Regions from separate parts of the Homo sapiens genome. Here region 1 is linked to region 2. The links come from fine-mapping of genetic effects on gene expression. A gene starts in region 2. The other region holds a variant in brackets. All regions are shown on one strand. Distances are from middle to middle.

The links. PIP is the estimated chance that this variant, and not a neighbour inherited with it, causes the effect.
Region 1: its variant is fine-mapped to the expression of TUT7 in whole blood (TOPMed, PIP 0.93).

What each region holds. Positions count from the first base shown.
Region 1 is chr9:86,218,379-86,234,441 of GRCh38, reverse strand. C9orf153 (chromosome 9 open reading frame 153) reads left to right here. Exons shown (of 4, transcript NM_001276366.4): 2 at 4,813-4,904; 3 at 6,412-6,587; 4 at 12,709-14,177. The coding sequence starts at 4,839. The coding sequence ends at 12,754. Among named protein-coding and RNA genes, the nearest start is that of C9orf153, 33 kb to the left of the region's middle. The variant C/T (reference allele first, on the strand shown) is at 8,201.
Region 2 is chr9:86,346,462-86,362,524 of GRCh38, reverse strand. It overlaps TUT7 (terminal uridylyl transferase 7), which reads left to right and starts at 8,115. Exons shown (of 27, transcript NM_024617.4): 1 at 8,115-8,254; 2 at 9,295-9,845; 3 at 16,045-16,063. The coding sequence starts at 9,326. RefSeq lists a silencer at 7,857-8,036 and an enhancer at 8,057-8,266.

The DNA of each region.
Region 1 (16,063 bases), 130 kb after region 2:
ACTTTGTCAGAAAATCGATTCACCATAATTGAGTTCTCTTTAAATAATTTTTAGCCTTTATTTCATTTCCTGTTATTTATGTTTCCCTTTTATATGACACAATAGCTATTCAACATTGTGGTTCTCTCCATTTCAGCTTCAGTTCTACTATGTTTTTATTTAGATTGTCATAAAAGAGAAGGAAGGACATTCTGTCTGACTAAATGGGAAATCAGAGTGAGCATAAGCTCAAAGAAAGAATGCACAGAAGCGCAGAAGATTTTTTCAGAAAAAAATGAGCCCAGCTGGCTAAAGTACAGAGAACATTTATGGCATTGCGGTAGCATTGAAATATGGTCATTATTATTATCATTTTTTTTTGAGACAGAGTCTCACTCTTTCTCCAGGCTGGAGTGCAGTGGCTTGATCTCAGCTCACTGCGACTTCCACCTCCCGGGTTCAAGCGATTCTCCCGCCTCAGCCTCCCGAGTAGCTGGGACTACAGGGATGCACCACCATGCCCAGCTAATTTTTGTATTTTTAGTAAAGATGGGGTTTCACCATGTTGGCCAGGATGGTCTTGATCTCTTGACCTTGTAATTCACCCGCCTCAGCCCCGCAAAGTGCTAGGATTACAGGCGCCAGTCACCGCGCCCGGCCGAAATATGATATTTTTAAATGATAGAAAAGTGTCAGAAGCAGATTGTGAATAGTCTTTGTAAGTCTGGTCAAGAAATTTATAAATTGGACGAGCACAGTGGCTCACACCTGTAATACCAGCACTTTAGGAGGCCAGGGCAGGTGGATCACCTGAGGTCAGGAGTTTGAGACCAGCCTGGCCAACATGGCAGAATCCCGACTCTACCAAAAATACAAAAATTATCCAGACATGGTGGCACATCCCTGTAATCCCAGCTACTCAGGAGGGTGAGGCAGGAGAATTGCTTGAACCCGGGAGACGGAGGTTGCAGTGAGCCGAGACTGCGCCACTGCACTCCAGCCTGGGTGAGAGAACCAGACTCTGTCTCAAAAAAGAAAAAAGAAAAGTGAGGACTGTAAAAACTACACTAGAATTGATAATTAAGAAGTCACTATTGTTTTTAAGAATTCAATTTTAGTTCATCAGCCAGGTGGAAGCTAAATGTCATTATACTGAAGATTACATGATGAAAATATAAATACAGCAAGTTCAGAGGTAAAGAAGAGACAAGAGTCCAGGGTTAGTGGTAGGATCACAGTCAAGAGAAGTTGCATTATTACCCCAAGTGGAAAACATTTTACATATTTGCAAAGAAAGGAAGGAGCCATTGGGGAACATGAGACTGAAGATAAGAGAATGATAGGAAGCAAGAAGGAAGACAAGAGGAGTTGTTGTTGGAAGGGAAGGGAGGATAACTGAGGGGAAATATTCCACAAGAGTTATGAGGAGGGGCCGGGCGCAATGGTGCACGCTTGTAATCCCAGCACTTTGGGAGGCTGAGGTGGGTGGATCACTTGAGGTCAGGAGTTTGAGACCAGCCTGGGCAACATGGCAAAACCCTGTCTCTACTAAAAATAAAAAAATTAGCCGGGTGTGGTGGCGCTTGCCTGTAGTCCCAGCTGCTTGGGAGGCTGAGGCAGGAGAATGGCTTGAACCCGGGAACTGGAGGTTGCAGTGAGCTGAGACTGTGCCACTGTACTCCAGCCTGGGTGACAGAGTGAGACTCTATCTCAAAAAAAGAAAAGAAAAGAAAAAGAATTACGAGGAGGATAAAATATACACCCTGGGTGGGAGAGAGAAAAAATTAACATTAGATGAGCAGAGAGAACTTTTTTCCTTCTGATTTGGAGGGAAGGGTGAAAAGTTGGGGGTGAGTGCAAATGGAGAAGAGGATACCATCCCCGAGAGTTTCTGTGAGACGCCCTTGCTCTTCACAGTACAAGGAAAATTTACTGTAGGAATCTGTGGGAGTAACGATGAAGAGAAGTGCCACAGTCCCCTGCAAAAGCTTCACTTTACTCACACAAATCTGTAAACAGGCCATTGGCCATATTTCCATGACTTCACCAGGAACACTCTCCATGAGAGATTGGGTCAAAGGGCTGGTCTAGATTTAGGCATTGACTTGGATCAAGCAAAAACTGAGGTTAAAAGTTTGCTAGTCAAGTCAACCTTTAAGTGTCTAAAAGCATTTTCGGCTAGTGATCTGTTTCAGCATTCGGAATCCTGACACTTCAGTGAGAGGGAAATGCACCCAACGGTAGTTTAGCAAAGAGAATGAGCAAGAATCTAAACTTATTTGTGCTCCATTCCTTGTCATCATCAATACTATTGTAATAACATGAGGACATATTTCTTAGCTATTGCTTTGACTCCATGTATAGAGAGTTGGAGATTGGCCATTGAAGTTGGATATTGGCACTGCTGATTAAAATTGGGAGGTGGCAGGGAGAGAGAGAGAAAAGGGGAGAGAGGCGAGAGATTACATCTTTCCCTCCTCTGAGGGAAGGGAGGAGAAAATTTATTAACCCTTGGTGATGGGAGAAGGCAACCTTCCTATGGTGGACAACTCTGAAGCTGTCTGAAAGACAATAGCAATGATTGACTGGAAGACATTGACAGGTTTTAGGTAAAGCACATTAGAGAAATATTTTCCTTTGCAGAAAAAATTTCCTTCCTTTGCAGGAGGAAAGCACAATCAAGTCTCATTGTAATTGCCTAGAGATAAACAGGTCTGTGGCAGGCATGCTGCACTGTATTGCTTTTCTAGTCCTGTATATCAATATAGTGATCTCAGTAGTGACAAATAGTGACAAAAATGTATTTGAGATTTTATATATATATGTATATATGCATATACATACATGTATATATATATATATATCCATGTTTGTGTATGTGTGTGTGTGTGTTTTTGTGTGTGTGTGTATCCATTCTGGGTTTTTCTACTTTACTCAGGAAGGAAGAGAAACATAATTGTTTTCACTTCATTCCAAATACCAAGTGAGTGTTTTTGGTTCATCTCAGACACTCATCCCAGTGACCACAGCTGCCAGTCATGATACAGTGGTACCCTGTACCTAGAAATATATTTTCCATCCATATATTCTCTTACCTACCAATAAGGGTTTCACTGGAATAAATTAAGCCAAGAATGTGAAGTTTTATGGGGTTTATCTGTATTTATTGCTATATAACAATTCATGCAAAGCTTAGTGGTTTGAAACAATAATAATTTACTCTTTGTCAAAATTTTAGAGTTGCCTTGCTCAGCTGGGAGGTAGTTCTTCTCCATCTGGGATTGGCTGAGGTTGCTTATGCTGCTGTAGTTATCTGGAGGCTCGTCTGGGGCTGGGTGAACCAAGATGGCTTTATCTACATGTCTAGTGGTCAATACTGGCTGCTGAGTCTGCATGGTCTCTCCAGATAGGCAGCCAGATCTCTCTTTACATGGTGGCTCAGGCTCCCAAGAATGTGTAGGAAAGCCGCAAAGCCTCTTAAGGTCTGGGTTCTGGCACTCACACTATGTCACTGACACAATGCCACAAGCTATTGATCAAAGCCAAGCATAGGCCAGCCCAGTAAAATGTGGGAGAGAACTTAACTGCCACTTATCAATGAGATGAATTGTGGAGATTCCATGGCCATTTTTAACGTCTTGCAGAAAAATTAAACACAATTCCATCTGCAAAATGCCTTATAGTGTATCTGACACAAAGTAAATTATTTTCAAAATATTTATTGTTTTTATTATTATCATTACATATGAGCCTTTTCCTCCTGAATAAAAAACACTTTTTGAGTGTAAGGAGGTGGGTGAGTTTTTCTTTAGATGAACTGAAAGTTGATCAGAATATGTAAGACAAGAAAATAAAACTATCCAGCTGGGCGTGGTGGCCCACACCTGTAATCCCAGCATTTTGGGAGGCCGAGGTGGGTGGATCACCTGAGGTCAGGAGTTCAAGACCAGCCTGACCAACACGGTGAAACCCTGTCTCTACTAAAAATACAAAATCAGCCAGGTGTGGTGGCACATGCCTGTAATCCCAGCTACTTGGGAGGCTAAGGCAGGAGAATTGCTTGAACCCGGGATGCAGAGGTTGCAGTGAGCCAAGATCGTGCCATTGCACTCCAGCATGGGCAACAAGAGTGAAACTTCATCTCAAAAAAATAAATACATAAAATAAAAAATAAAACCATCCATATAGGATTTGTTACACTAGTATTAAAACTAAATACACATGTTGTAGAAGAATTTGGGTATTTCAGTGAAATGCTCAGTTGAAGCATGACAAATTTGGCAGACCTAAACTACGAAAAAGCAAATGAAAAGTTTAAATTGTATTGATATGCTTTGGATTTGTGTCCCCACCCAAATCTCACATCAAATTGTTATCCCCAGTGTTGGAGGTGGGGCCTGGTGGGAGGTGACTGGATCATGGGGGAGGATTTCCCCTTGCTGTTCTCATGATTGTGAGTTCTCATGAGACCCGGTTGTTTAAAAGTGTATAGCACTTCCCCCTTTGCTCTTTCTTTCTCCTGTCCTGGCCATGTAAGACGTGCCCTGCTTCTCCTTTGCCTTCCCCCAATAATTGTAAGTTTCCTGAGGCCTCCCCAACCATGCTTCCTGGACTGTGTGCAGAACCATGAGCCAATTAAACCTATTTTCTTATAAATTACCCAGTTTCAGATATTTCTTTAGAGCAATTCAAGAATGGACTAATACAGGTATAAAATTTTCAAAATGTCCCACTCACAAATTTATTAAGATTTAAGAAGTCTCACCTCCCCCTTTGTATTCTATCTGATTTTTAATCTTTGATTTTTGTCTTTTCTCATATTGCTTTTTTTAGGAATTAGAGAATAAAATCCCAGCACGATGTTCCTCACTGGAGACACCAGTCCAGCTGAGGACAATAGAGAAGCCACCCTTCCTCAATGTTCAGTATGTACTTAACATTGTACAACGAGGTGTACACAGGGAGCTTTACATTCAAGAATCATAAACATTCAAACTATTGAACGCACAGTGACACACTTGGGAGCCATGGGAAACTCCAAAATGTCACTTTAATGACTTAACATTCTTAGTCACAGAGAAGTGTAGCTCTTCCCAGGGCAGGTGGGCAGAAGTGCTGAGCTGTTTTCGTGATAGTGTGGTTGTATAATTCGTTATAAAGAGCCATTCACCAATGTTAGCACACTTTCTTTTTTTTTTTTTTCTTTAGGAAAAGATGTATTAACCAGAGAACAATCCAGCCCAATTTCCAGGCTAAAGATTTCATGATATCGGTCCAAACATCACACTATTTAACTCCCCAAAAAAACACTGGAAAAAAAGACTATCAGTGCTAACACATTTACTTATAAAATCTCCACCTATGTACCAATTTCTAAAACAGTTACAAGACAGATACACAATTTGGGGTAAACTAACAAAACAGACTATTATAAAATATTAAAAGCAATCCTCCTGGTCCACGGGCCCTTGTCGCCTCTTACTTGAAGTTGGCGTAACTGAGAATGCATCCATATATTCCTGCACCACCTTGTAGCAGAGCTCATACTGGTTCCAGGGTCTGGACCACTTGTGTAGCCTCTGTAGCCGCAGACTCTTGACATTCTGGAAGACGTCCAAAGTCCCTTCTACTTTCCCACGCGTTAGCTCACTTTCTATTTGTTGCCCTTGCAATAAAATTGACTAGGATTGAAGGAAAACTCTGCATTGGGCTAAAGGACCTAAATTTCAGCCCTAACCTGAGACTATGGCCTCTTTGGCCTTCCAGTGTAATGGCCTAAGAAACCTCTTAGAAAGGATAGGATTTGTAGGAAGTATAGGATTTTAGATGGGGACAGGTCCTCTCAGGGATCTGTTACTGTTTTTTTCTGCCAATAACTATTCCCAGATACTCAATGTATGTCACCATTTGCTCTGGTCACATATCCCAGTGAGCAATGACTATTGTCGCCTCCTCAGCACTGGATTCCTGAACATTATGGGCTCTTTGGACAACAGGATGAAGCTCTGATATCTAAGTGATCTGGCTCGCTTTCTTCCTTCAAAGACATAATAGCATTGTTCAAAACAAGCAAAGGCCACAGTCTCCCACAGCTATTTCTCTCCGTGGTCACTCATAGAATTTCAGAGTTGGAAAGATCTTCAAGACTTCTTAGTTCAATTCTAACTGCCTAATTTTATAACAAGCATTTATAAGACGTGTCTAAATAATACATCTTTAAGGGAGTGAATCGGAGATTTGACCTCTCTGTTCTCTATTCCACATTGCCACAATTGACTTGCTTTAGTTAGGCAAAGATATCTTCCAAAGATAAAAATGCTTTTGTCTTTATGGTTATTTATTGTCCTATGGTTTTTTCTAGGGTTTGTAGGTCTGCCAGAATATTACATTTTTGTCAGTCTCGTGACTTACCACTTTTTTTTTTGTCCACAGCTTCCAGAATTATATGCATGTATTGAGAATTTTAATAAGGAGAGCAAGAAATCAAATCTTCTAAAAATGCATGGTATTTCACTTAACGAAGCACAGGAAGTACTTGCTAGAAACCTGAATGTCATGTCATTCACCAGGGGCGCTGATGTGAGAGGAGATCTCCAACCTGTTATCAGGTGCACAGTGGTTAAAAAAGAGAAGCAAGCATCCATGATTGAGCTCCTCTACCGCAGCTTACTGGCAAGCTCACTCTCTCCCATGGAGAGGCTCTCCAGGTCCCAGCAGAGGCTGTCACAGTGTGGGATCTCCCCTCCCAAGCACACTTTTCCTTATGAAATTCTCACCGATCACTCGAATGCCTTGGCCCAAGTTACCGTACAGAAGGTTCCAAGCCCCAAAATCTTATGCAGCTTAGGCATTTCCAGTGCCACCCCAGAAAAGTTCATTTCTGAAGATAAACTTTGTAGATCCTTCTTAGTTGACCCAGGTAATTTAAACAGATGAGGCCATGTGGGAGAAAAGGAATGGAAATCTCATTGCAAATTTACTAGAGCAGAAATGGTCCAATACTGACCTACAGCAATTTTGTAGTTCTGAGGTTCATGGCTGCTATTAATATGTTTGCTTTATACAGTGTCAATAAAATGAACAAGCCTGGAAAACATAGAAAGACCCCATCTCCAAAAATAAATAAATAAATAAATAAATAAATAAAAATTAGCTGAGCTTGGTGGCATGTGCCTGTAATCTCGGCTACCCGAGAGGTTTAGGTGGGAGGATCACTTGAGCACATGTGTTTGAGGTGGCAGTGAACTATGATCACACCACTGCATTTCAGCCTTGGCAACAGAGCAAGACCCTGTCTCTAAAAAATGAATAAGTAAAAATAAAAATAAAATGCAGAACAGAGAACCCAGAATTCCAGGATCAAGTCTCAGATTCACTCTTAAAAAGATATATTGTTGGGCCAGGCATGGTGGCTCATGCCTGTAATCCCAGCACTTTGGGAGACCGAGGCGGGCAGATCACCTGAGGTCAGGAGTTCGGGACCAGCCTGGCCAACATGGTGAAACATGGTCTCTACTAAAAATACAAAAAATTAGCTGGGCGTGGTGGTGGGTGCCTATAATCCCAGCTACTTGGGAGGCTGAGGCAGGAGAATTGCCTGAACCCAGGAGGTGGAGATTGCAGTGAGCAGAGATCGCACCATTGTGCTCAAGCCTGGGCCACGAGGACAAAACTCTGTCTCAAAAAACAAACAAACAAACAAACAAACAAAAAACCATGAAACTTATGATGCTGAATTTTAATGAGAAGGGAGTGTCTTACACTTTAAGTCTCCATCTTATATAATTTGAGAGAGGTAATATTTTGTCATTTTTTAATAGATTACATCAATTTGTGATAACCCTCTGAAGCAGTTTCTTGATTCAAGATAAGACCATTTTCACAGCAAATATTTTAACACCACCATTTTTATATTAAAAGTAGTGGGACGGGGCAATATGGCAAAACCCCGACTCTACAAAAAAATTTTAAAAATTAGCCAGGTGTGGTAGCATGCACCGGTAGTCCCAGCTACTCGGGAGGCTGAGGTGAGAGGATAACTTGAACCCAGGAGGCAGAGGTTGCAGTGAGTCAAGATTGTGCCACTGCACTCCAGCCTGGGGAACAGAGCAAAACTCTGTCTCAAAGAAGAAAAAAAAAAGTAATGGGAGAGGCAGAAGGAGCAAATTTAAAGGAATAGATTGATTACTGTGAGTATATTTGGTCCAAAGAGTTGGAAGAG[C/T]TTTTGCTGTAACTCCCTACATTGACATCTTAACAGAGCCAAATGCAGGCTTCGAAATCCTTTCATAGAGTCCTACGTTGCCTAAGTAGCAGTGCAATTAAAGCAATGATAGGACTGGCCTAGATAATTCGCAAAGTACACAAGTAAAGCCTGGGACCAGAGAGGAAAAATCATGAAAAGTGTTGAGACTCAGTAAGAAGAACTAATCAAAAACCTACTGAAGAAGGGTTTTGGATGTTTGATAAGGTCTTGAACATTTATGACTTTCACATGTATACGGGCCAAGTTTTTCTTTCTTCCTAATGCATGAATTACCTGCTGGTTACCTAACTTCTGGAGGTCTCTGATGTGGTCTCACAAACTGTGTTGGAGTCTCTTCTCTGCCTCCATATCTTCATTTCCTGAGATCCCAGAGGTAAATTTCTGGTACATGTCATGTCTATTCAAGAAATATGCTGGCTGGGCATGGTGGCTCACGCCTATAATCCCAGCACTTTGGCAGGCCAAGGCGGGTGGATCACCTGAGGTCAGGAGTTCAAGACCAGCCTGGACAACATGGTGAAACCCTGTCTGGACAACATGGTGAAACCCCGTCTCTACTAAAAATACAAAAAAATTAGCTGGGCGTTGCGGCGGGCACCTGTAATCCCAGCTACTTGGGAGGCTGAGGCAGGAGAATCGCTTGAACCCAGGAGGCAGAGGTTGTGGTGAGCCAAGATCGCGCCACTACACTCCAGCCTGGGCAACAGAGTGAGACTCCGTCTCAAAAAAGAAAGAAAGAAAGAGAGAAAGAGAGGAAGGAAGGAAGGAAGGAAGGAAGGAAGGAAGGAGAGAGAGAGAGAGAAAGAAAGAAACGAAAGAAAGAAGGAAAGAAAGAAGGAAGGAAGGAAGGAAGGAAAGAAAGAAAGGAAAGAAAGAAAGAAAAAGAAAGTGCATGGAGTCAGGCAGGAATCTAAGTGAAGGGTATCCAGTAATCCCTTAGGGGTAATTAGTATTGCAACAATTCATCTTCTACTCTCCTACTCAGTCCAGAAGAACTTTAGGATCCTGGTATTCCAAAGTATACTAAAGAACATATTCCTACTGGCACCAAGCACCGGGGGAGGAAAAGAGAGTGGGTGTTGCCGTTTTGCTCTTCTATCGTATGAGCTCCTCTTGTTCAGGCTAAATCCCATAGAATCATATAGCTTAGGAATCAAAAATAACAGAAAACCAAATAGTGGTTATTTTTCTTACATAATTAGAAGTCTAGGGGTACGCAGACAAGGGCCGGAACAATGCTTTTTTTTTTTTTTTTTTTTGAGACGGAGTCTCGCTCTGTTGCCCAGGCTGGAGTGCAGTGGCACAATCTTGGCTCACTGCTACCTCTGCCTCCCAGGTTCAAGCAATTCTCCTGCCTCAGCCTCTCCCATGTAGCTGGGACTACAGGTGCCCACCACCAAGCCCAGCTAATTTTTTTTTTTTTTTTTTGTATTTTTAGTAGAGACGGGGTTTTACCGTATTAGCCAGGATAGTCTCAATCTCCTGACCTCGTGATCCGCCTGCCTCAGCCTCCCAGTGCTTTTTATGTCTCTATTTATTTAATGAACACATTGTCATTGTACATATATATGGAGTACAATATATGTTTCAATAGTGTTATATAGTGATCGAATCTGTGTATTTATCCTGACCTCATGCACTTACCATTTCTTTGTGGTGATGACTTTGAAAAGCCTTCCTTCTAGCTATTTTGTAAGATACCATATCTTATTGTTAACTATCCTCACCTTACTGTGCAATAGAACACCAGAATTTATTCCTCTTATCTAACTGTAACTTTGTTCTCAATTATTTATTTACTTCAATTTTAATTTTTTTTTTTTGAGACACTGTCACCCAGGTTGGAGTGCAGTGGCACAATCTCAGCTCACTGCAGCCTCAACCTTCTGGGCTCAAGCAATCCTCCTATCTCAGCCTCTCAAGTAGCTGGGACCTCAGGTGCATGCCACCACAACTGGCTAATTTTTGTATTTTTTGTAGAGATGGGGTTTCATCATATTGCCCAGGCTGGTCTTGAACTTCTGAGCTCAAGTGATCTGCCTGCCTTGGCCTCCCAAAGTGCTGGGATTACAGGCGTGAGCCACTGGTCCTGGCCCATTTTACATTTTTTTGAGATGGTATCTTGCTATGTTGCCCAGGTTGGCCTCAAACTCCTGAGCTCAAGGAATCTTTCTCCTTCAGCCTCCCCAGTAGCTGGGACTACAGGTGCATGCCACTATGCAGGGCTTCTAATTATAACTCTGAACCCATTGACTTATCTCTCTCCATCCTCCCCTCCCACTCCCTACTCTGTCTCTGGTGACCGTGATTCCACTCTCTGTGGAGCGATGCTTTCAAATGTCTCCAAGGACCTGGGCTCTGCCATTTTTTTGTGTGTAGCTTTTGTTTTCATGTCCAAAAGACATCTTCACCCTCGGAGGCTGTGGCCACATTCCAGTCAGGAAAAGGTGGGATAGGATGAAGAGCCACATTGACACTTCTGTCCTCTTTTAATACGGAAGCAACGATTTTCCAGAACACCTCTCCTTAAGTGATTTCTTTCTACATCTTCTTGGCCAGAATTGTGTCCAATCATCACCCCTTCCTGTAGGGAAGGCTGGTGAATAAGAGTTCTTAGCTCCCCCCTCTATAGCAGAGGAAGGCAGAAGAGGATTGCAATGCGTGTGGAGTAAGCCAACCTAAAGTGTCTGTCAGAGATCATGACGTGAAGCTTCTTTTTTTATTATTTATTTTTGACAGAGTCTTGCTCTGTCACCCAGGCTGGAGTGCAGCAGCACGATCTCGGCTCACTGCAACCTCCGCCTCCCAGGTTCAAGTGATTCTCCTGCATCAGCCTCCGGAGTAGCTGTGATGACAGGTGCCCGCCACCAAGCCCAGCTAATTTTTTGTATTTTTGGTAGGACCAGGTTTCTCCCTGTTGGCCAGGCTGGTCATTTTGGGAGGCCGAGGTAGGTGGGTCACCTGAGGTCAGGAGTTTGGGACATGAGGCTCTTTAGTCATCAAAATCATCAGCTCTAAACCTTCTCTTGTTAAAGATCCCCTTCCTTCCTTTTGCCACCACTTCTTGCTATGCCAGGCCTCCAAAGATCTTGTCAAACTCCCTGAAACTTGGCAACTGGCCTTATGAATGGACTGCTGAACACCATGGCAGTATCTGTTCTACTTGGGGAGGTATGAGCCCAACGAAGAGTCTCTGGCACCTGTCTTCTACTTCAGACATGTACAAAGTCTATATAAAGACTTCCCACCAGGCAGGCCCAGGCCCTCCCAGTACAGGGATGGAGGACTGATTGGAGTGGAGTGGTGCCTGCTCAGTCTTTGGACTACAGGTGACATGCTCAAATGTCACCACATGTGGGACAGTAAGGTCACCCACCAGAAATAGACCAGTCATCCTGCTTGTCTGCTGTGACCATAATTCTCCTTATACTTGTTCCCGTGGCCCGTTGGCTCCTGGTTTTACACTCCAACCCATGCCTTTAGCCTTGATTTGTTGTTGTTTTCAGCGTTATTTAGCCATGAAAAGGGTGGAAGAGAAGGGAGAGGGGAATCGCTGCTGGTGGGGAGAACATGTGCTGTGTCTTTGCTTGATTCTTTCTCCTTGGCTCATTGGCTACTTGAAGGAATTGTAACTGCTAATGACACCTCAAGCTTGTGGTTTCTGAATGAGTATGGAGAATGGCCAGATTCTAGCTCAGCCACTGCCCTTTTATACTTAGGGCTTACATTAGCATCTTGGAAGAAATGACACTAACAATCTGTGCACTTCTAACCCATCTTCCTCCCTGTTTTTGGATCCTTTTCTCCTCCCTGCTGCTTTCGGTGCTCTGCAGAGCTCTCCATTTGCACATTCTGTTAGGATCCAAGCACAGAATGAAATACTCCGTCCACCTGCCGGGGCTCTGCAGGGTCCACTCAAGCCCAGTTAGCCAGACCCACTCAATTGCTGTTTAGGGGCAGGCTTTACATGAAATTGACATCACAGGGTCTCCCTTAAGTTTATAAAGCTTTAGGCCGGGTACAGTGGATCACTTCTGTAATCCCAGTATTTTGGGAGTCTGAGGCGGGTGGATCACCTGAGGTCAGGAGTTTGAGACTAGCCTGGCCAACATGGTGAAACCCCGTCTCTACTAAAAATACAAAAAAAGTAACCGGGTGTGGTGGCGGGTGCCTGTCATCCCAGCTACTCAGGAGGCTGAGGCAGGAGAATCATTTGAACCCGGGAGGCGGAGGTTGTGATGAGCCGATATCGCACCATTGCACTCCAGCCTGGGCAACAAGAGCAAAACTCCGTCTCAAAATAAATAAATAAATAAAAATTAAAAATAAAGCTTTAGAAATGGCTTTCTGCCAGAAAGAGGGGACTCGAGTTCATCAAAGGTTTACCCTGTCCATGAAGCATCTCTGAGTAATGAAAGGCTGAGTAACAACACCATGTGATTCTTTGAAAATATGATTCTTTTCAGGAAAACAATTCATGAATCTAAGGGATCTGGAATGGAGATATTTTAAGGGGCTTGCGAAGTGGAGGCGCACTACTGCAATTTCATTCGGAGACATAAAATACAACACTGAGAAGAGATTTGTAGAGAGCCAGGACATGCCTGACGTTATTTTCCCCCCTATAGTTCGCAAGTCTTTGGTCATTTATCCTCAAATTGATTATCAAAATGAAGGAAGTTATTCTCTTAAATGGAATATGTAGTGTATTAAAATATTTTGGACGTAGATTTTTGCTTTTGAGAGCATTGATTTAATACACAAAAAGTAAAGAAGCCAAGTACCCAATAGAACATCTGAAGTGAGTGTGTACAACACACATGAAGGTATATTGTAAAATTAAGCCGTTAATACAGAGCAAAAGGTCCGATTTAATCTGCTAACGTGAGAAGTGGTTTGGACGGTGCAACCCATTTGGACCAGGGCTAAAGCAAATATAGGTCATATGAAAAGAAAAGGTGTAACTGAAGAACACTCAAGCAAGCATAGCTTTTTAAGGAATTTTAAGCACACAAGGAAGTTCATCATCATAAAGTATTTGGTACATTCAACAAACAAATTAACATCTGAGCATATAGAGATCAATATGAGAACTTAAATATAATCTATTAACTGTCCAGTGACAAAGAAGGAAACAGCATCCATGAAATAAGAACAGAAAGATTTGTAAAAGAACAAATTGGAAATCTTGGAAATGAAAGATATAGTCATTGAAAATTATAATAATAACCCTTGATAATTATCCCAGTGGTAGCCTGGATATATCTGAAGAGAGAGGGCTAACAAGTTGGAAGACAGCATTGAAAAGCTTAGAGATCATAGCACTGTAAGACAGAAAAATAAGAGTATTGGACGGTAGAATGAGAAGTTCAGAAATGTATACGATGGAATTAGCAGAAAAAAAATAGGAGAATGGAAATTAAGTGATATGTGAAAATAAAATGACAGAAAAATCTCAAGAAACACATGAGACCTTGAACTGAAAAATCTCAGACTGATTAGCAAGATATTGAAAATAAATCTATACCCAGAAATACTGTAGCAAAACTATGGACCACTAAGCAGTAAAGGAAAATATAATCTACGAAAGAGAGATGGATTACATACAAAGAAATGACAAATTGACAATAGAATGCTCATTAACAATAGAGGTCAGAGGACAATAGTGTCATATACTTACAATGCTGAAGGAAAATAGCTGTCTGTAATTCTATAAGCAGCCAAACTCTCTCTGAGGAGTAGGGGGTAAAATAAAAATGTTAAAAAATACATGGGCCTAAAAATGTTTACTATCCATAATCCCTTGCTTAAAAAAAACTACTAATAAAGTATGTATTTTAGTAAGAACCCAGAGGGAATGCAAGAAATAATGGCAAGCAAATTGTTAACAATATATGTGTGTATGATTGTGTAGATATTAAAATACATTTCCGGATCCTGTTTCCTAATATGCTATTTTTAAAAGTCGTCTCCATATAAATGAAATTATTCTGTAGTCTCCACTTTTTGCACTATTTTTTAAAACCAGATTTTGGTATTAAAGTTTATGCTGTGGCTCATACCTGTAATCCCTGCACTTTGGGAGGCCAAGGCAGGCAGATCACTTGAGGTCAGGAGTTCGAGACCAGCCTGACCAACATGGGGAAACCCCCATCTCTACTAAAAATACAAAAATTAGCTGGGTGTGGTGGCGTGTGCTTGTAATCCCAGCTACTCAGAAAGCTGAGGCAGGAGAATCGCTTGAACTCTGGAGGCAGAGGTTGCAGTGAGCCCAGATCATAACATTGCACTCCAGCCTTGGCGATAGAGTGAGACTCCAGCTTAAAAAAAAAAAAAAAAAAAATTGTGCTGGCTTCAGCACGTGACTATCTTCAGCAGAAGATACTGTCTAAAATGAGCATGGGGTGGGTATCTGGGGTGCACACAGTGTTCTAGTTTTTAATCTTTTTGCACAGATGTGTTCAGTATGCAAAAGTTATTCAAGCTACACACAACTATTAATTTTTCTCCATGCATATTATATTTCAAAAAAAAAAAAAGGTTTTAGAGCCAAGCACAGTGCTTCACTCCTGTAATCCCAGGTATTGAGGAGGCAAAGGCAAGAGGATCACTTGAGACCAGGAGTTCAAGAACAGCCTGAGCAATGTGGTGAGACCCTGCCTCTAAAAAAATAATGTTATGGCTGGGCATGGTGGCTCACGCCTGTAATCCCAGCACTTTGGGAGGCCAAGGCGGGTGGATCACAAGGTCAGGAGATCGAGACCAGCCTGGCCAATGTGGTGAAACCCCATCTCTATTAAAATACAAAAAAAAAATTAGCCGGGCATGGTGGCGTGTGCCTGTAGTCCCAGCTACTCGGGGGGCTGAGACAGGAGGATTGCTTGAACCTGGGAGGTGGAGGTTGCAGTGAGCAGAGATCGTGCCACTGCACTCCAGCCTGGTAACAGAGCAAGACTCCATCTCAAAAAAAAAAAAGAAAAAAAAGTTACAAAAATTAGTTGGGGGTGGTGGTGTGCACCTGTAGTCCTAGCTACTTGAGAGGCTGAGGCAGGAGAATTTCTTGAGCCCGGAAGATTGAAGGTACAATGAGCTATGATCATGCCACTGTACTTCGATCTAGGCAACAAAGTGAGACCCTGTCTCTTAAACAAAACAAAACAAAAAAGTTTATTAAAAGTTATGCTAGCTTTATAAAATGAATTGGGGAGTTTTTCATCTTTTTTAAGATCACAGATATTTAAACAATATTAGAAATATTGAAGTCTAGCTAGAACTCAGGTATAAAACCATCCACTCCTGCTATCTTTTCTTGTTTTTATGAAAATGTTTAAACACTCATAAAAATGAATAGGATTCTACAATGAATTTGCATATATCCATAATCTAGATTCAACAGTTATTAAGATTTTACCACATCTGTTTTATCTGTTCCTTTTGTTGTGTTTGTTGTGTCTGCTGAAGTACTTTAAAGCAAATCTTAGACCCCATGTCTCAGTTGTTACTTTTGTTTGCATCTCAGAAAAATATGGACATTTTCTTTCATAGCTACAATGCATTATTTACTAAAAGATAATAATTCCTTAGTACCACCTTTGTATCTATATTCAAAGTCACCTTATTATAAAATTATCTTCTTCTAATTGGTTTGTTTGAATCAGTATCCAAGCAAGATCTAAAGATTGCATTTGATTGTTAAGTCTCTTAAGACTCTTTTAGTCTAGAGCAAGTCCTCATTTTTTTCATGCAATTGACTTACTGAAGAAATAGGTCCATTGACATGTAGAAGGTCCCACCTTCTAGATTTGTATCCTCATGGTGTCC
Region 2 (16,063 bases):
TAGTTGGTCCTACGTTCTGTGGACCACTGAAGAGCAAGGATGGACTGCCCCAACCGGTTTTTGTAATTTCCTTAAACCATACATTCATTTTACTAGAGGATCATAAAAGTTAAAGACTTAAAATAAACTTTGGCAATTAAGATACCAAAGATACCAAGGATACCAAGATGCAAATGCCTGGTGGAATAGATCAAATATTCCGTCCGCACATTAAACAAAAGCAATTGTTATGCTTGTACGCACAGCAGGCCAGAGTCCCAGACTGTCCCCTTTCCACTAGGGTGACCCTCCACTTGACCAGGCATAGGCTGCATGGCAGCTCTTTTCCAGGATTCTACAGCCTAGAGTAATAAGTTGTGCCAAGCTCCCTCTCTGCTATATCCCGAAGTCTGGCACCCTGTGGGTCAGCCCCCGAGGGCTATCCAGCTTCCGTCTCCCAACACTAAGTTCACTTCATGTCTCTCACAACAGGGAGGAAACAGCGTTCCTTGGAGACCTGAAGGGATGCAGTGAGCTTAAGAATTTTCAAGAGCTTATCAATCAGTCAGCCCTTGTTCATCCCCAAGTGGATATGTGGTGGTATTGTGGTGGACCTTTACTGGACACTCTGACAAATAACTGAAGTGGCATTTGTGCTTTAGTTCAATTGGCTATCCCTTTCACCCTGGCATTTCATCAACCAGAGGAAGGAAAAATAAGACATCATAAAGCGAGAGAAGCCCCTTATGGGTCTTTTGACTCTCACATCTATTTAGACACAATTAGAGTCCCATGGGGAATACCAGATCAATTTAAAGCCTAAAATCAAATAGCTGTAGGATTTGCATCAATATTTTGGTAGGTGACAATTAATAAAAATGTAGATTGGATAAACTACATCTACTACAACCAATAGCGATTTATTAACTACACTAGAATTAGGAGTTTGCATCATGATTAAAACTCAATGTTGCACCTTCATCCCAAACAACACTGCCCCTAATGGAAGTATAACAAAAGCATCGCAAGGTCTGACTGCTCTATCCAACAAGTTAGCCCGCAACTCAGGGGTAAATGACCCTTTTACAGGATGGCTAGAAAAGTGGTTCGGTAAATGGAAAGCAATAGTAGCCACAATTCCTACTTCCCTCACAGTCATAATAGGTGTACTTATTCTTGCTGGCTGCTGTGTCATACCATGCATCTGTAGGTTGATGCAGAGGCTCATAAAAATGGCACTCACTAAAACCTCCCTTAACTATCCTCACCTTATCCAGAGAAGCTTCTTCTTTTGCAAAATCAAGCAAAACAACTAAGCCAAGACATGTTTAAAAAGTTTGAAAAGAAAGCTGTAAGGAAATAGAAGAGGAGGGGTTGTTAGATATGAGTCCTAAATTTCTTTTCAAAGAATCAATATGTCAGTATGTTCAATTCTTTGCCTTCTACTTTTAAACTTAACTTCCTCATAAAGCAACCTTTTTCGATTACCTACTCCACCCTGACTCATTCCAATCACCTGCTCTGTCATAACCATTTTTCCTGCCAAACCACTCACTCCATCACTCTCTTCAAATTAGCCAATCGGAATTAGTTTAGCCTCTGTCGCCTAACCCTAGCCAATAAGGGAAGGACACAGTAGCAGTGGCCACATGCATCAGGGATAAGAACCCCTTCCCCTCCCTTGTCCAAGTGTGTGCTCACCATTGCTCCATCTGTAAGGGCACACCCTTCTATAGAAGTACCTTGCCTTCCTGAGAATCAAAAAGAAAATTTTATATTCAAGTGCTATTTCTTTTGCAGCACCGAAACTTTATATATAACATCACTACGTTACCAAGGCTGGTCTCAAATTCCTGGGCTCAAGAAATCCTCCCACCTTGACCTCCCAAAGTGCTGGGATTATAGGGTAAACAACCACGCCCAGCCTATAAGCCACTGTGCCGGCAAAATTTTGCATAGAAGGCTGATTTATGGGTTATAACAACAATTTAATTAGTTATGGCTTGTTTTCATTTCCATACAGCTTGTTTTCATTTTCTTCTCAACTTAAGAGTATATTTAACATTCCCTCTTAGACAATGTGCTAGTCATAAGCCTTAGTGTGAGAGAGTTAAGAGGAAAGGTAATCTATAATGAAGATCAACAGTAAAGAGAAAAGGGGTCTTCTCTGGAGCCCATTAGTCATTTACAACATTTTACAAAACAATATAGGTAAAGAAGAAGGTTAATCTATAATGAGAGAAACAAAGGCTACAGCTGCCTAGGTTATAGCTGCCTGTCAAGTGACTCAGGCTCCATAAGCACATTCCTTTAAGGTTCAAAAAATTTAAAGTTTCAACAGCTTAGATTTTTAAATTCTTTTTACAAGACAAAAAAATACACCGGGTAAAATGTTAGATTAAAATTTAAATGGGTGGTCAGGGCTGGGTGTGGTGGCTCACGCTTGTAATCCCAGAACTTTGGGAGGCAGAGGTGGGTGGATCACCTGAGGTTGGGAGTACAAGACCAGCCTGGCCAACATGGTGAAACCCCATCTCTACTAAAAATTCAAAAAACTTAGCTGGGTGTAGTGATGGGCACCTGTAATCCCAGCTACTCAGGAGGCTGAGGCACGAGAATCGCTTGAACCTGGGAGGTGAAGGTTGCAGTGAGCTGAGATCGCGCCACTGCACTCCAGCCTGGGCAACAGAGCAAGACTCCATCTCAAAAATAAATAAATAAATAAAATAAATAATAAATAAGTAAATACATAAATAAATTGGTGGTCAGAATAGGCTGCATTAAGAATGTGACCTTTCAGCAAAGACATGAAGGGAAAGAGGAAGTGACCAATATAGATGTCTTAGGGAAACTGTTTTAGGCTGAGGGAACACCCAGCGCAAAGCCCTGAGGCTTGTGATGGAAGAATTGCAAGGCTAGCATAGTCGGGGTGCAATGTGTGTGTATGGGAGGGGATGTAATGAAAAAAATAGTTTCCACTCTATTCTCACATTCAATACAGCACATTTCTGTGACCAGATAAGTGGAGATTGGTGATTTCCCCACATACCAAGTGTTGGAGCTTAGAAAATGATGCCCCAACATGTGGCACTTTGGCATGCTGTGTGCCTTTAACAAGGAAATTGAAAGGGCTCAGAAATAAATCTCAGAACCAAGGACTGTCTGATTTTCTCTTGCCTCACCCCACCACCCTCACCCACCTACAGGAAGGGAGGGACTTTCTCTAAACTTCCTTTATCTGATTAAGGGAAGTTTCTCCAGAAGAAATGCAATTGTCTTAGACCCCCTCCTTGGAATCTACACTAACTAGAGAAGATGAACTCGTATCTCAGGAGAGCCCAGGACAATGTACCTGGACAGGCTTTTTTTTTTTTTCTAGACAGAGTCTCACTCTGTTGCCCAGGCTGGAGTACAGTAGTGCAATCACAGCTCACTGCAGCCTCGACCTCCCTGGGTTCAGGTGATCCTCCCACCTCAGTCTGCTGAGTAGCTGGGACTACAGGTGTGTGCCACCATGCCAGGTTAATCTTTTGTATTTATCGTAGAGATGGGGTTTTGTCATGTTGCCCAGACTGGTCTCAAATTCCTAGGCTCAAGTGATCCTCAGGCCTCAGCCTCCCAAAGTATTGGGATTACAGGTGTGAGCCACCACGTCTGGCTGGACACACTTTTCACCTATTTTTTTAAAACCATTTTTCTAGTCTGAAAGACTTTATCTGTATAAGAAGAAACTTTTGCTCAACACACACTTACTCTACCCTCACCTTTCAATGACTGTGGTCACCACCTCCCCATCAGAGGCCCTGGTTTCTTTCTGTAGCTCAGGGTCCCATTTAAGCTTCAGCCATTTGGCCCTTCTTTGAGTTTCATACTTTGTTTGGGTCTCGCTAGCTTGCAAGTTAATAAATCGATATGTTTTTTCTCCTGTTAATCTGTCTATTGTCAGTTTGTTTTATAGATTCAAACCATCAAAGCTTCTGAGGGTATAAAGTTCCTTCTGCCTTTACAGAAGCAATTATACCAACTTGGTGTCCTATAATCCATTTCAATTCTATCTACCTGGCAATAGTGTCAGATCCCACAGGTGAGGGCTCAGCCCTACGAGTTTGCCCCCACTTCAGATACCAGTCACAAGTCAAAGCCACCCATACTTCTGACTGACTGGTTTCTGAGGTTCCCGTGTCCCCAGTGGCCCAGAGAACTCAGGGAAACACGCTTACTGGTTTATTATAAATGATATTATAAGGTATACAGATGAACAGCCAGATGAAGAGGTACATAGGGCAAGGGCACAGAGCTTCCATGCCCTGTCTAGGTGAGCCAACGTTCAGCACCTACATGTGTTCAACTATAGGGAATCTCATCAAATCTTTTTGTTCAAGACTACTTAGAGAGCTTGATCTCCGGCCCCCTCCTCCCCTTCACAGAGGTCAGTTGGTGAAGCTCAAAGTTCTAACCCTCTAATCCTCCAATCACTTGGTCTTTCTGGTGATTAGCCCCATGCTGAGGCTATGTAGGGCCCCCATCCTAAATCATCTCATTAGCATAAACTCAGGAGTTTAGGGGCTCACTATAAACACGGAAAGACACTTCTATCACTCAGGAAATTTCAAGGATTTTAAGAGCTCTATGACAGAAACTGGGGACAAAGGCCAAATATATTTTATATTATACCACTGGGGTAAGAGGAATAAGGGCTGAGATCGGGAGGTAAAGGGAAAGGCCCTGAGTCATTGAAGGATTTTGGTTTTTACTCCCAGAGAAATTGGGAGCCAGTGAAAGGTTTTGAGGGGTAACTCAGTCTGATTTTTAATATGCATTTTCTGGCTATTGTGTCAAGAGTAGATTGGAGGACAAGGTGGAAGCAAGTGATAGTGGTGAGCATTTGGCTGGAAGCAGAGAAAGTAGTGATAAGTTACTGGACTCCAGACAGATTTGAAGGACAAACCAACATAACTTGCTAACAATGTGGATAAAAACCGCTGGCATTTAAGCATTAGAGCTCTAAAAACCGAAAACCAAACCAAACCAAACAAAATAAAACACTGGGGAAAGAATTTGGCTGATAAAGCTATGAATATAATTCCTGTATTTCTGACTCCATGGCTGTATAGAAAAAAAGCACTGGGTTTGTTCAAAGTTGACTTGTCAAGATGTATTACAATGTTAATTTCAAGATAGAATTACAAGAATGTCAAGATGTATTACATGTGTTACAATGTAAACTTCAAGATGTATTACATGTATTACAATGTGAATTTCAAGATAGAATTACAAAAATGCCAAGATGTATTACATGTACTACAATGTTAATTTCTAGATAGAATTACAAGAATGTCAAGACATATTATGTATTAAATGTTAATTTCGAGATAGAATCACAAGATTTCAAGTTGTATTACAATGTTAAGCTCAAGATAGAAAATATATTGTAACATATGGAGCAGTATTAAGGTCCTCTGAACATTGCTTAACAGTATATGGCAGCCTTTGCCCTCACATTTCTGCTCCAGGTTGTTGGAAATATGTCAAGACCGTGAAGCAATCACCATAAAGATTCTGAGAAACTCATTAATCCTTCCAGTGACATCCAAAGAAAACTCAAATCAAAATTTCCAACCAGATTGTAAGAATTCCTAGGACCAATTTAAATATCCATTACAGCATAATATGGACAGAAAAAGGTATATTCTGCTGTCAATATATTTTGATTAGTACTGCATCTTATTTGAGAGAGCCTGATTTGTCCTCAAAATGAATCTTAAAAGCAACCATTAGAATAAAAGAAGTTGGGCTTTGGGAAAGACGTTGAAGAAAACGCAAATTCAAAACGTTTTATTTTTTAAATTTATTTTTGAGAGAGACAGGGTATTGCCCTGTTGCCTAGGCTGGAGTGTGGTGGCACCATCATAGCTCACTGCAGCCTCCAACTCCTGGGCTTAAGGTATCCTCCTACCTCAGTCTCCAGGGTTGCTGGGACTACAAGCAGGAGCCAAAGTGCCTGGCAAAAGTATTTTAAATCGGGCCAGGCCTGGTGGCTTACGCCTGTAATCCTAGCACTTTGGGAGGCCAAGGCCGGTGGATCACTTGAGGTCAGGAGTTCCAGACCAGCCTGGCCAACATGGTGAAACCCCGTCTCTACTAAAAATACAAAACTTAACCAGGCATAGTGGTGCCTGTCTGCAATCCCAGCTACTTGGGAGGCTGGGGCAGGAGAATCACTTGAACCTGGGAGGCAGAGGATGCAGTAAGCCAAGATCGCACCACTACACTCCAGCCTGGGCAACACAGTAAGACTCTGTCTCAAAAAAAAAAAATTAAATCCTTAGAAAGATGTATCCTCTGCTGCTGCTCTAGAACTCTAGGTGGAGGCAAAGGTTGCAGCCAGCGGAGATCATGCCACTGCACTCCAGCCTGGGCAACAGAGTGGCACTCCATCTCAAAAAAAAAAAAAAAATCCTTAAAAGTATGTATCCTCTGCTGCTACTCTAGAACTCTAGGTGGAGGCAGATTTCTAAACCAGTTCTTTTGCACAGGAATTACTGGTTTGGGTGGGGCGTGGTGACGCTGCTGTCTCAGAATTAATGTAATCATGCATCTCCACACTCCCTTTTGGACTATATTTTCAAGGCCACTGTCTGCCTGTTGAAGAGACTATCAGTTTGATCCTCACGTATTTTCACAATCAAAATATCTAAGTAAGGAATTATATAAAAGTTGTAGGAATGTGTTTTATATCACTTTTAGTATAGCCACATGGTTAATAACAGCCTCATATTCAGGGTCTGGATTGCAGCAGTGCCATTTACTTCACTGCAAGTGCTAAATGTCCTCATCTTTAAAAGTGGGATAATGATATAGTCTTCATGAAGCTGTGAGGATTAAAGAAGTTAAGGCTGGGTATGGTGGACCACCCCTGTAATCCCAACACTTTGGGAGGCCAAGTTGGGCGGATGGCTTGAGGTCAGGAATTGGAGAGCAGCCTGGGCAACATAGGAGACCCCTGTCTCTACAAAAATATAAAACAAAGGAGTTAATATTTGTAAAGCCTTCAAAACAGTTATTGGCATAGCCAGAACTTTGTGTGTTATTATTTTAAGACCATTGCTCCACAGGACCTGACAGCTTTCAATTTACATGCTTTAAAAAAGCAGAGAAATGAAAACTGTCGATTTTCCCAACGCTCCCTAATTTCACTAGTTGCTTGATGTTTTTCAAAGCATTTAGAACACTGTAAACAGCAAGGAAGGTCATACAGTAAAGAAAGAAAAAGCAACCCCGAGTTCGAGGTGTGCACTCTTCAACTCAAAAATTCGAATGTAACGCTCTCTGGTCATCCCTTGCCATTACACATATTCTTCGAAATGAACTGATTTTTTTTTTTTCCAAGTAAAAGTAATCCTTACACAACCTAAGAAAAAAGCAGAGCATTTTCCTTGACCACTTTGAGATCTGGGTGAGCAGTGGATGTTTAAATGCTGGCATTTCTACAAGGTCGGCAATTAAGAATTCACGAAAACATTAATCACTACGAATTATCAGAAAAACACCAAGAGCGCTACGAGGCCTCGGAGCCTTTACTCCCCCTGGAAGTAACCGGGGAGCACCCAGGGGCAAAGCCGAGGCCCCAAGCGCGGGGAATGCGGCTTTGCCCGACCGCTGGCTCCGCGTCCCTCTCCGGGTGCATAAGTCTTGGCTCCCGCGCCTCTCCCGAGCACTTAGCCTCCCGAGCAGAGAGGGGAACCAGAGGAGCGTCGAAGCCGGGAGAGAAAAGGGGCGGGCGCCGCTCTGGTAAGAAGTTCGGGCCTGGCCCCCAAGCGCCGGCGAACCGGCTATCCGGCGAGCCAGTAATTAGCCCGCTCCGACGGTTGCGCCCGGTGGCCAGACCCGGCGCCCGACACCTGGAGCGAGTGCGCTGGGGCGCCGGACAGGAGAGGCCAGGCTGGCAAAGGCGCGGGAGGCGGGGTCGGAGCGTGGGCGGGGCACCGCGGGGCGGGGCGCGTCGCTCGTTTCCGGTGTGCGCGGCGGAGCGCTAGGGCGGGGGCACAGTCGGCTCCCAATCGCGCACAATGAGACAGCGCTGAGCGCCGGAAGTGGGGCCGAAGGAAAACACGGAGAGGGAGCCCGGCCGGGACAGGAAGAGGCTGGGGACCGCGGCGAAGGTGGTGAGTGCTCTTGGGCGCCTTCTCCCAACGTCCCTGCCAGACTCGCCTCCGGGCTGATTCTCCAGTTGGTTTCCTGGACTCCAGAGTAGCTGTCCGGCCTGGCCCCGGAGGTACGTTGGTTCCATCCCCCGCCGGCCTCCTCGCACCAGTTTGGGTGACCGAGGAACCCCCAGGCCGGCAGAGGCTGAGCCCTCGGGTTCGAGTCCGTGTTTTCACTTTTTGTCAGACTGCGGGCGCAGAAGACGGGATTTGGGTCAAGACATTCGGCTCTGGCCCCCTGGCCGGCCGGGGGAACCCTGGAACCCCATGGAGACAGCAGGTCACTTCCTGCTTCCTGGTCCCCACGGTGGCTTCTTGGCCAGGAGTGCAGGGACGCCTCCTCTTTCTCCACGTCGGGCTCAAAAGGGTGGAAACTAAGGCAGATCGGTGGTGGAGCGGTCAGATGGGGATTGAAGAGGAGTGTCATTCCTCAGGGAATTGCTGTTCCTGACAAAACCAAACTTGTTTGGGGTTGGAGAACGGGGATTGAGGAGGTTAGATGGAGTTGTCCCTTGATCGGAAACCCAGCCTCTTTAATTACAGCTGCACCTTGGTCGGAAGCCCAGCCCCTCCGTAACCTAAGCGCTCAAAGCCGGTCTGTCCAGAATAGGGGTGGTGAAGGGACGGAAAATTGGAGTTGAGAAATGTAGTACTCCTTTCACGTAAAGTTTCGGTGTATAACACTTACAAGTAATTGCCAACTTAAAAAACAAAAGACTGTTTCGGTAGTTTAGTAATAATATTGGCTTGGGATGAGGTTTTCTTTGAAGAGAAACGCCTTGTTACAGAGGGAAAAGCCGACCATACTTGATATGAGTAATATTCTACTATGCTACAGTTCTGGAACCTATAGAGCTTCTCTTATTCACACATTTAATCTTCATGCTAAATAGTAAGTATTAATTTTCATGAAGAATATTAGAGGACCAAGCCTCCCAACCTCTAGGGTAAAGCACTGATTATTAAGAATGTGATAGAATTTTTATTTTAAAAAAATAGGGAGTTTCTTTCTTACAGGCTTTGGGGCATCTGTACGATAAATTGTTATTTTGTATACTTGTATGATATCTTGTTATATAGTTTGATATTTCCCCAAAATACCTTCTTTCAGGTGCAAAGTAAGAAAATTGAAGTCAAAGACCATGGGAGATACAGCAAAACCTTATTTCGTGAAGCGCACTAAAGACCGGGGGACTATGGATGATGATGACTTCAGAAGGGGTCACCCCCAACAAGATTATTTAATAATAGATGACCATGCTAAAGGCCATGGCAGTAAAATGGAAAAGGGCCTTCAAAAAAAGAAGATAACACCAGGGAACTATGGGAATACCCCCAGAAAAGGACCATGTGCTGTTTCCAGCAATCCATATGCATTTAAAAACCCAATCTACAGTCAACCCGCTTGGATGAATGACAGCCACAAAGATCAGAGTAAGAGATGGCTGTCTGATGAACATACTGGTAATTCAGACAACTGGAGAGAATTCAAACCTGGACCTAGAATTCCTGTTATAAACCGACAAAGAAAAGACTCCTTTCAAGAAAATGAAGATGGTTATAGGTGGCAAGACACAAGAGGCTGCAGAACTGTAAGACGACTGTTTCATAAAGACCTAACAAGCCTAGAAACCACGTCAGAAATGGAAGCAGGAAGTCCTGGTAATGTTTTCCAACTTGTCAGATCACAACCCCAGAGTCAGCAATGTTTTATTCTTTTTCATCCAAATGAGTTTTGTTATTTTCAGCAATTTAGTTTCAGTTTTTCACAGTTTCTGTTTTAAGAAATGGTCACTTAGTGTGATTATTTTAAGGATAGTAATCATGATATTTGAGCAGCTAAAACACATTTCATATGTTGATCCCTTTAAAAGTTTACTTTGCCCCAGGGCTCACTTTACGTCAGTAAACATGTTTTCTGTAACGTGTTTTTTACAGAAGAGGGTAGCTATATGCTCCAGGGGACCATATCGTAATTGCTCAGTGGTTTGTGTGTTTTCAAAATTGTGATTATAATTTTGTATTTGAATAATTAATGTGTTCATAATATAAATGACAGAATATAAAGCTTTTTTTAAAAAAAAAACTTATTTGTTGATGTAAAAACACAGTATACACTGCGTATATCTCCTGCCACAAGAGATATATCTTTTGGATGTAGTGTCAGTGTCCCGAGATGGATAATCTGAGATCTTTGTTTTTCAAAAGGGATCGTGACAAACAGGTTGAGAAACAAGTTTAGAAAGTCAGAAATAGATTCAAGCTTTGCTGTTTGGTTTCAGTAAGACCAAAACTAATTTCTCGGTGCCCTCACATGCTTGGTTAATTGCCCCAAAGGGATAATAAGGAGATAATATGTTTTTCTAAAAGTAAAAAGTAGATTTTATCCATGTGGCAACGATTTCTGCAAACAGGAAGGTTATTTTTATCTAATGGGAGATATATACCGAAATGAAATAAAGTCACAAATTGGATGGAAAAAATGAAACAATATCACAGTTGGAAACATGGACTTGTAAGTTTAGTGGCTGAAAGCGTTTTTTAGTGGTTGTATAGAATGTGTTTCAAACTGGCCAGCACTTTTAAATAAATTTTTTTAGTTTAAATGCATTCAGGGAATATGGACACTTTCTAGATCACCCGATGCCTTTTCTCTTCATGTTATCTCACAGTGGCCAGTTCATACACTGGTTACCTATAAGGTGTTTGAATTTGTGTCCCATGCGTATAGAATACTTAAAAGCCAAAAGGTCGTCTTTTATCTTTACAAGGTCTTAGGATAAAAATGAAAGTCTCAAGCACTTATTAATATTAAATGGGGGGAAATGTGCTACTTGATTTTTTTTCTTTTTTCACAGATACTTCTAGTTGTCAGATCTGTTTATTTATATTTTATTTTATTTTTTGAGACGGAGTCTCGCTCTGTCACCCAGGCTGGAGTACAGTGGCGCGATCTTGGCTCACTGCAACCTCTGCCTCCTGGGTTCAAGCGATTCTCCTGTCTCATCCCCCAAAGTAGCTGGGACTACAGGCACATGCCACCACATCAGGCTAATTTTTGTATTTTTAATAGAGACAGGGTTTCACCATGTTGGCCTGACTGGTCTCAAACTCCTAACCTCCAGTGATCCACCCACCTTGGCCTCCCAAAGTGCTGGGATTACAGGCGTGAGCCACCACATTCAGCCTGATTTTTTTTTTTTTTTTTTGAGACAGTCTCACTGTGTCACCCAGGCTGGAGGTGCAGTGATGTGACCTCCTCTCACTGTGGCCTCTGCCTCCCAGGATCAAGCGGTTCTCATGTCTCAGCCTCCCAAGTAGCTGGGACTACAGGTGCACACCACCATGCCCAGCTAATTTTTCTGTTTTTTAATAGAGATAGGGTTTCTCCCTGTTGGCCAGGCTGGTCTTGAACTCCTGACCTCAAGTGATCGACCTGCCTCTGCTTCCCAAAGTGCTGGGATTACAGGCGTGAACTACCGCGCCTGGCCCTCAGATATTTTTAAATTTGAAAATTAAGAGTATATATTAATATCAAGTAGCAGAAACAGAATGAAGTGTTATAAAGGCGTTAAGTAGTAGGGAGACATAAAACTTAAATCTTTAAGCTAGAAATAGCTTGAGGAATTATCTGATGCAGTACTCTGTTGTAATATATCAAAAATGGAATCACAGTTTTACAAATCAGGCAGCTGCAGCTCAGAGAGGTTAAATTTCCACAGACCTGTTTATGCAGCGCGGTAAATGAGGAAGTAGAACTAAAATTGGGGACTCTGCTACTCTGGCCATTAACTCAGCCTCGCTGGACCTGAAATCCTGACGGCGGAGCCGAATATTTCTTGATAATTTCTGGGCTTTTGATTTGTGTTTTTCTTTATTAAAAATTGTGTATATTTAAGTGTTTCTGTATTACTGTCCAGGTGGGATGTGGGTATTTAATTTTGTTACCTATAGTCTTGTAGAAGTTGATCTTGAAAACCATTTCATTTTATTATTATTATTCTCTTTTTTGAGATGGAGTCTCGCTCTGTAGCCCAGGCTGGAGTGCAGTGGTGCGATCTTGGTTCACTGCAACCTCCATCTCCCAGGTTCAAGCAATTCTCTTGCCTCAGCCTCCTGAGTGGCTGGGACTACAGGCACGTGCCACCACACCTAGCTAATTTTTGTATTTTTAGTAGAGTTGGGGTTTTAGCATGTTGGCCAGGGGTAGTCTCGATACCCTGACCTCATGATCTGCCTGCCTTGACGTCCCAAAGTGTTGGGATTACAGGTGTGAGCCACTGCACCCGGCTGAAAAGCATTTTAAAAAGAAAGTTTATAGATCAAAAATTTGCAACTAGACATTAAAAGGAACTGTTGGCTGACCACAAAAACTTTTATATGTTTTCTTATTTTATGTGTATTCTTATAAAAGCAACTAAAGAAGTTGCTTTTAAGTGTATTTGAATAGGAAATGCATTTTGCTATTTTTTTATTGGAGGTAATTCAAAAGTTTGCATGTTTTTGCTGTATGACATACAGGTATATGCTTTCACAGTTATTAAGTAAAGAATTATTCAGTTTCTATCCCTTGAAAATCTTCATATAGGAAGCATTAAGCTTCGGTATAACATTATTTAGTTTAGAGAGATTCAACTGAAAGTATAAACTAAAAAGGATCTCATTAAAGAGATCGAAATTTCTTTATCAAAATTGTGTCTTAATAAGGAAGGGTATTATTCAACAATGTGAGAAGATATAATGGAAATTATGGTGGAGTTGCTTTTTTCCCCCCCACATACGGTACTACCTTCTGTTTTTTTCAGCTCTACATTACTGCCCCTACTTTAGCCTTCAAATGTCCTAGATTGCCAGTTTAATGTATTTGGGACATTGCCATTAATGATCTTAGCTGGAAAGCATCCACTCAAATACACATGTCCTTTGTGAACCATATGCAAATAAAATATGGGAAACTTGGAATGCCGAATATAGAGAACTCTTATTACAATAAATCTGAGGTAAGCCAGGTAGTCTTCCTCCAAGTAATTATGAGAATTTTTCTTTTTTCTTTTTTTTTTTTGAGATGGAGTTTCACTCTTGTCGCCCAGGCTGGAGTGCAATGGCATGATCTCGGTTCACTGCAACCTCTGCCTCCCGAGTTCAAGCAATTCTCCTGCCTCAGCCTCCCGAGTAGCTGGGATTACAGGTGCCTGCCACCACGCCCAGCTAATTTTTGTATTTTTAGTAGAGACAGGGTTTCACCATGTTGGCCAGGATGGTCTCGAACTCCCGACCTCAGGTGATCCACCTGCCTCGGCCTCCCAAAATGCTGGGATTACAGGCATGAGCTGCCACGCCTGGCCAAGAATTTTTCATCAGTACCTAGCTTTACCCTCCAAGAGTCCCTCCGGTGAGATTTTGACAGTTTTTACCATGCATGCCTGTGAAAGTAGGTTTAGAAGGTTATATTGCCTTTCAGTGCTAGTCCACTCTAGATGTGAATGGGTATGTTCCAAGAAGGGATTTTAGTAATTTCTTTCCAGTTTTTATGTTGTTAGTTAGAAGGCTGAATTTCAGGATTTCATCCTTTTTTTGTTTGTTTGTTTTTTAGACAGAGTCTCACTCTGTCACCCAGGCTGGAGTGCAATGGCGCAATCATGACTCACCACAGCCTCACCTCCTGGGCTTAAGCAGTCCTTCCGTCTCAGCCTCCTGAGTAGCTGGGACCACAGGAGTGAGTCATCTTGCTGGCTGATTTTTTTCATTTTTGCTAGAGATGACATCTCACTATGTTGTCCAGGCTGGTCTTGAACTTCTGAGCTCAAGCAGTCCTCCCACCTTACCCTCCCAAAGTGCTGGGAATTACAGGCATGACCCACTGCACCTGGCCCCATCCATATTTTAATCTATATTTTCAATCCCTTTACTTTGATTTAGCCATGTGTTCTTGGAGAAGTTATTCTCTTGGATTCGCATTGTCCCCATCTGTACAATGGGGACAGTATTAGCAGGATTGCTGTAGGGATTAAATAAGGCAGTACATATAAAGTGCTTTACATCTGTTGCATAATAAGATACACCATCATGGTAGCTGCCATTATCTGACAGAATTTCTGCAGCCATCCACTTCTGTATAAAAGCAGTAGGAGTTGATTGAGGTCTTTGGAGGAAGAGAGAAGTTACTCTTTCTAGAAAATGACAGCAAATATGGTTATATGGAGAAACCTTTGTGACCAGAAGAGAGGAAGAGTTTAAAAAAGGAATTCGGTTCCCTATCACTTACTGGCTTGTGAACTAATAGGGGCTTTTCTAAAGGGTATTGCAGTATTATTTTAAATTTATAGAGTTTTTGCCTAAGAAACCTGTAATAAACACTGAAGTTAGATGCAGTTTTTTTGATAATGTTTATAATGATAAGCAAACTAAATGAGAATGGATACATCTCTAAGTAAAAGAAGTGCTTATCTGAAAAAAAAAAATTGTTCAGACCAGAAATACTGGCCTTAAAAGATTATGATAATTTAATTGGGAGTCGGGGGAGTATTAAAAAGGAAATATTAAGGTAGCGCAAGGTAGCCTGATTTTCTGTTGAAATGACAACTTACCTTTTAGTATTTTATTTGTTCAGTGTATTTTGATTGATTTTTTAAAACTACTTTTCCAACACTTTAATTTTTTTTAATTTTTTAATTTTCTTATATTGTGGAAGGTGTTTGCAGAATTTTGAGATAGTCATCTCAGGTAGTTTTAGCACAATGCTTGCTGCTTATCCTTTAGCGCTCTCAGCAAGCTTTTTATAAAATTGGAGGTCCTATATTTCCTTTTCAGCCTGCCAGTTCATTGTAATTGCCATACTAGTAGTAATGAGTTCCTCTGAAAACTTGATGGAGGAATTACTTCATGTAGGGCTTTTCAGTAGGTTTATGTTTCCAAGCACTAATGTGTTACTAATAGTTTCATTTTTTAAAACTCGATATAAGTTATCAAAGCTATCTAAAACAATTTTTTATGGTTTAATCCCACAATCACTTTAACAAGTTGAAAAGTTATAAGTTTTAAAAAGGAACAGGATGATTTTTATTCATTATAAGGATTATAGAACTAATAGCAGAGTTTATAAACAAATGTACTTAGAGAAAACTTTTGTTTCAATGGCCAGTTGTTTTTTTCCTTTGAAATATGCTCAGTGTACAGGCCATTCAAAGAAGCTAAAATGAAGGTAAAGGTAAAATGAGAGATAGTTGTCCTTAGTAAATAAAATTTTGGCTTGGACTTCTTCATATTAACGGAGGGACCCGGCTTAGGTGTTATTGATGGCTAAATTTGCAACTAAATGATGATTTTTCACTCCAGATGAGTATATAGTTGATTTCTGAGTTGTCCAGGGGTACATTTTGCATTTTGCCTTATTGAGATTGTTCACTTATAGAAGATGAAAGCAAATGTGGCTGGTTTTAATGAGAATAACAGGTGTACTTACAGATATTATAGAATATGTAAGATATATTTACAATATGTATTGTAATATTTTAATATAATAGAATTATAGATATACTTGCCTTCAGAGTATAATTTTTCTGTTGCTTTGCTATGCTCAGCAGTATACCAGGAAGAGATAATAAAAATCAAATTGTATGATTGAAGTAGAATTCTTTTAAATTTTCCAAAAAGATGATTTCTATGGCTTAATGTCTACAGGTGATGTGCTCACTGAATACAGTATTAAAGCATTTTGTCCATAGGACAGCTACCTTTCCTTCTGCTCTGCATGCAGATGTGATTTATTCTCTCACATGATTTAATACATATGTAAGGTCTGCTTTTTACTCAGGAGTGGCATTATTTAATATTGCCAATAATATTTTTCCCCCACCTTAAGAAAACAAGAAGCAGAGGTC